2 separate regions of the Homo sapiens genome follow, and region 2 is linked to region 1. The links come from fine-mapping of genetic effects on gene expression. A gene starts in region 1. The other region holds a variant in brackets. All regions are shown on one strand. Distances are between the middles of the regions. Region 1 holds the start of MEX3D (mex-3 RNA binding family member D). Region 2 has its middle 2.8 kb from the start of ADAMTSL5.

Region 1 (2,895 bases):
AAAGTTGAGGGAGGCAGGCGGGCGGGTGGCTAACGGGGTGGTGGGTGTGAGCTGGGCCAGGCACTGCCCACCACCCGCCCGCCCGCCCCGCAGCTCGGGGGCCAATGAGCAGCGGCCGGCCTGATGTCACCCTGCAAATCTCAGCCTCGCTCTCTAACAAAGAGAACAATGGGGCGGCCAGAGGGAAGCTCCGACGATGCCACCGCTGGACCCCACACCCGGGGCCTGCCGCCCGCCGGCCTGCCCAGCAGGCTGCACCCCAGAAGTGGCTTTGACAGCCGGTCCTTCCCCAGGCCCCGAAATCCCTGACTCGGGGCCAGAGAGTGGAGCAGGGACCCTCTCCTGCCCGGTCCCGTCCCCACCCCAGTCAGGGCCCCAGGCTGGAGACTGAGACGTGCGCTCTTTGTACTGTCAGCCTTCTCTCCCGGTCCTGCAGGCGGCCCCCCTAAGCCACCCCTAAACCTGCGCTTGCCCCGCCCCGCCGCCTGTGCTGGGTGTGGGGCGCCCCCCGCCCGGCCGGAGCCCCGGGCCCTCGAGCCCCTCTCTGGGGTGCCCCTGCGGGCGGCCGAGGGCCTGGGCTGCGGCGCGGCTCCCCGGAGCCTTTCCGGGCTGGAGGCGGCCCAGACAAAGGCGGCGGCGGGGCCGGAGCGCGCAGGGGAGGAGCGCGGGCTGCGCCCAACTTTCTCCCGCGGCGGCTGCAGGACAAAGGCGCAAAGGCAGCGGCCGAGGCCGGAGCCCACGCGGGGCGTGTCCGGTGCGGGGCGTCCGGCGCGGGCTGGGCTGGGCTCGGGCGACCCCCTTCCCCGGGGCGGACGGTGCGGGGACCCCCAGGACAGCAACCCCCGACGAGGGCCACTCACCCTGGCGACCCACGATCTCGGCGACGTGCTCGGAGCTGGGCACCGGGACGCACTCGGTCATGTTGACGCTTTTCTTGCGGCTGCCGATCACGCTCATCTGGTCGGCCAGCAGCGTCGGGGGCCCCAGGGCCGCGGGGTGGGGCGCGAAGCCCGCGAACACGTCGGGGGGCGACGGCCGGGGCGGCGGCGGCGGCGGGGGACTCGCGTTGGGGTCCAGCAGCGGCAGCGACCCGGGGGCCACGGCGGGGGCCAGGGTCGGGGGCGCGCCGGCCTCAGGTCCGTCGGGGGGCACAGGCTCCGGAGCCGCCCCGCCGTCCGCGCCCCCCGCCGCCGCTGCGCCGTCCCCGGCCGCCCCCTCCTCGTCCGTGTCGCCAGCGCCCCCCAGCCCGAGCGCCGACAGCTGGTCCAGCGCCAGGCGGAGCGCGGCGGCCGCGTCGTCGGGTTCGGGCGGCGGCCGGGGCGCGGGCGCGGCCTCCTGGGCGCCCTCGGGCGGGGGCGCAGGTCCGGGTCCGGGGTCCTCCCCCGCCGCCCCCACGCCGCCGCCGCCGCCGCCCCCGCCCCCGCCGCCGTCGGGCTGGCCGAGCGAGCTGGGCATGGCGGGAGCTAGCGCTGGGGCCCGCGCTCCTGCCGCCCGCGCCGCCGCCGCCGCCCGCGCCGCCCTCCGCCTCTGCGAGCTGGGCCGCCGGCCGCCTGCATCCAGCGGCGGGGGCGGGCACGGGGGGCCGGGCGGGCGGGGCGGCGGCGGCGCGGGGCTGCTCGGGGCCGGGCCGGGCCGGGCCGGGCGGCGGCAGCGACTCTGGCTGCGGCTCGGCGGCGGCGGCGACGGCGGCGGCGGCTCCTCGGCGGCCGAGGCGGCGGCGGCGGCGCGGGACGCTCCTTCCCTCCCGCCGCCTCCCGCGGCCCCGCCCCGGCCCCGCCCCCGCGACGTCACGCCGCGGCCCAACAATGGGCGGCCCCCAGGGCGCAGGCGCGCGGGGCGGGGCCGGGGCGGGGCCGGCGCCGGGCACGTGGTCCAGGCCCCGCCTCCGCCCGGCGCTCGGGCGGGAACCCGGGCGCATCCGCACGTGCGGGCGCTGCTGCAGGTGTGTGCGGCTCAGCCCCTGCCTGGACAGCGCTCCCTCCCCAAGCCTGAGAGTCCCTGCCTCGCGCGCCCCAGGGCCCGAGGTCCCGCTCCCCAATTTCCCCTAGAGATCCGGGTCGCCCCCAAGCGAGGTCTCTTGCTCCACGCCCGCTTCCTTGTGCCAGGGACCCCCACCTCCCTGCATAAAGGCGTGGGGTCCTCTCCAAGTCCCCCTCGCGATCCCACTGGACTTCGAAGTCAGGCTCCTGCCCGCCCACCGCCTCTGTGCCAGGGTCCAACCCCCGCCCCACGGTGCACCCCCCAGGGCCTGGGGTCCCAGTCCCCAAGTACCCCTTGCTATCAGGTGGGCTTTAGGGTCAGGCCCCTGCCCCACCCCCAGCCTCTGTGCCAGGGACAGCTCCACAATCATGCACACCCCAGGGCCTGAGGTCCCTCTCCCCTAGTCTCTCCTAGCTCCCCTCTGGCTGGCTCCCGGCTTTGGGATCAGGCCACCTCCTCCACGCCACCTCCTCCGCCCCACCCAAGGCCACAGACCCGGTCTCTGTGCCCCCAGCCAGAGACCTCTCTACCACAGTGGTGCTTCCATGGCGAGGGCAGGCTCACACCAGCCAGAACCCTCCATGTGGAGCCCCACCCTCTTCTGGGGTGCCTTTCCCCGCAACGGGCGTTGTCCACCTCTAAAGCCACCCTTGCCGGGCGCGGTGGCTCATGCCTGTCATCCCAGCAGTTTGGGAGGCCGAGGCGGGTGGATCACGAGGTCAGGAGTTAGAGACCAGCCTGGCCAACATGGTGAAACCCCCGACTCTACTAAAAATACAAAAATTAGCCAGGCGTGGTGGCGCGCACCTGTAATCCCAGCTACTCAGGAAGCTGAGGCAGGATAATTGCTTGAACCCTGGAGGTGGTGGTTGCAGTGAGTCGAGATTGCACCACTGCACTCCAGCCTGGTTGACA
Region 2 (2,895 bases), 52 kb before region 1:
CTATTGGAGAAAATAGCCCAGGCCCACCACTGATGGCCCCAGGTTGGGGGGTGGTGGTTGCGGGGATGTCAAGAAGGCCCTCACTGAAGGGGTCAAGAGAGAAGGGCAGGCCGGGCGCGGCGCCTCATGCCTGGAATCCCAGCACTGTGGGAGGCCGAGGCAGGCGGATCACCTGAGGTCAGGAGTTTGAAGCCAGCTTGGACAACATGGTGAAACCCAGTATCTACTAAAAATATAAAACTTAGCCAGGCATGGCGGTGAGTGCCTGTAATCCCAGCTACTCGGAAGACTGAGGCACGAGAATCGCTTAAACCCGGGAGGCAGAGGTGGCAGTGAGCCGAGATCACGCCACTGCACTCCAGCCTGGGAGACAGGCGAGACTCCGTCTCAAAAAAAAAAAAAAAAAAAAAAAAGGAAAGAAAGAAAGAAAGAAGTCAGCTCAGGACATGTGTCAATGTGTCATTAGGACAATTGTATCCTCCTCAGATGTGCCCCATTCCCAGATGTCCAGTCCACAGAGCTCCACTGGGAGTGCAGACAGCAGGCCCTGTGCCCCGCAGGGAAGGTATACAGAAAGCACAGCGCCCACAGGGAGCACACACAGCAGGCATTATGCTCTGCAGGAAGGGTATACAGCAGGTGCTGCATCTTGTAGAAATGCATAGAGTAGACTCTGCCCTGCAAAGGAGTGTATACAGTAGATATGGCACCTTCAGAGGAGTGCATACAGCAGTCACTGCATCCTGTAGAGAGTATATACAGCAGGTGCTGCATCCTGCAAGGAAGGTATACAGCAGGTGCTGCATCCTGCAAGGAAGGTATACATAAGGCGCTGTCTCCTGCAGGGAGCGCATACAGTAGGCACTGAGTTCTATGGAAAGTGTACCCCGCAGCCCCTGTTCCCTCCTGGGAGTGCATACCGCAGCCACTGCACCCTGCGTGGGGGCTCTAGAGCTGGCAAGATTGGCAGAGGTGGTGGTGAAGATGTGGAGGGCTGCCCCCCACCCCCAGTTCTTGTCCCCTACCGTCTCCCACCTCTGTCCTCTGGATGTCCCTAGGAGGAGGCTGGGAGCTCAGCCTAAGACACCCGGTGTAGGTGGAGGGGGTGGCTGCTGAGGCTCAGAGGCTCCTGGGGTCCCAGTTGGGCGGGGTCCCAGCTTACTACATTCCCCTGCCCTTGCCTGGACCCTGACCCAGGAATCAGCCGAGTCCCCCTACTCTGAATTTCAGCCTGGACCCCCTCCTTGAGGCAGCGTCAGGGCTAGAGGGGAGACTGAGACGCGGGTCCCGGCGGATGTGGATCAATTAGGTTCCATTTCCTTCATGGTTGTATGGCCTTGAGGCTTAAGGAATGCCGCGATCTGCTGTGTGACTG[G/C]GCTACAGTGAACAGTATGGTACCCCACACTTCAAACTGTGTTCACAGGGTAGATTTCATGGTAAGGGTTCTTACCATAAAAGAACAAAAACAGTGGGACACAAGGGACCTCGGGAAGTGACAGGTAGGCCTGTCATCTTGAGTGTGGTGACTGCATATGTGCAAACTCATCAAATTGCAGACACTGGGCTGGGCACGGTGGCTCACGCCTGTAATCCCAGCACTTTGGGGATCCAAGGCCAGTGGATCACCTGAGGTCAGGAGTTCGAGAGCAGCCTGACCAGCAAGGTGAAACCCCGTCTCTACTAAAAATGCAAAACCTAGGACACGGTGGTCCCAGGATACCTCAACCTCCTGCGTGGACTGGGTGGGGCCTCCCCATCCCTGCCCCACAGACCCCTGGACCCCCCGGTCCCTGGGGCTGTCCGTCTGTTCCTGGGCACCAGCAGGGGCCACGCAGAGTTGGGACCCTCCCCGGCTGGAGTCACCCCATGGGACTCAGGGCCCTGGACCCTCCTTGGCCGCTGCTCGCCCGGTCCTCATTCTGTGCCGGTTTCTTGTGCACGCTCGGAATCTGTTCCCTGCAGGCACCCAGTGCCCCGGGCACCGTCCAGAATTCCTGGAAGAGACCTCTTGCTTTCTTACCCCACTGCCCAGGCTCCAGGCCTGTGACATGGCCTCCCCAGGGTGCCCCTTCCCCTCCACCTTCACGTGCTGAAAACCACCTGTTCTGTCACTTTCAGGCGACGTGGATCAGGTGGACTGGCCCACCTCCTCCATTGTGTATGACGTAACCCATGCTTGGCCAAACAGATAATTCCATCTCCTAGAGACGGGGATTGGCTGGGGGATGACCATGTGACCCAAGTGGGCCAATGAGAGCCTGCCCTGGGACTTGAACTGGGCCATTAGAGGAAAAGGTGGTTTCCCGTGGCTGGGGTGGGCTCCAGGGATGGCGTGAGTTGAGGTAGGCTGGACTTTCTTGACTGCTCGAAGAGATGCACTGTCTCAAGCAGATGCTGACAGACGGCAGCAAATGGAAGGGGCCAGATTTCTTTTTTTTCTTTTTATCTTTCTGTCCTTTTCTTTCTTTTTTTACTTTTTTTTGAGACAGGGTCTTGCTCTGTCGCTCAGGCTGGGGTGCAGTGGTGCAATCACAGCTCACTGCAGCCTTGACCTCCTGGGCTCAAGCGATCCTCCCACCTCAGCCTCCCATGTAGCTGGGACTACAGATGCATGCCATCACATCTGGCTAATTTTTTTGATCTTTAGTAGTGACAGGATCTTGCTATGTTGTCCCGACCCAGGCTGGTCTCAAACTCCTGGGCTCAAGAGATGCTCCTACCTCAGCCTTCCAAGTAGCTGGGACTACAGACATGCATCACCATGCCTGGCTAATTTTTATATTTTTTGTAGAGTTGGGGGTCTCCCCCTGTTGCCCAGGCTGGTCTCGAACTCCTGAACTCAAGTGATTCTCTTGCCTCAGCCTCCCACACTGCTGAGATTGCAGGCATGTGCCA

Evidence for each region. PIP is the estimated chance that this variant, and not a neighbour inherited with it, causes the effect.
Region 2: its variant is the best candidate, but not a certain one, in a credible set for the expression of MEX3D in whole blood (INTERVAL, PIP 0.70).

The regions. Positions count from the first base shown.
Region 1 is chr19:1,566,604-1,569,498 of GRCh38, forward strand. MEX3D (mex-3 RNA binding family member D) reads right to left here and starts at 1,722. Exons shown (of 2, transcript NM_203304.4): 1 at 861-1,722. The coding sequence starts at 1,455. RefSeq lists silencers at 1,722-1,911, 1,952-2,001.
Region 2 is chr19:1,514,366-1,517,260 of GRCh38, forward strand. No RefSeq gene overlaps it. Among named protein-coding and RNA genes, the nearest start is that of ADAMTSL5, 2.8 kb to the left of the region's middle. The variant G/C (reference allele first, on the strand shown) is at 1,376.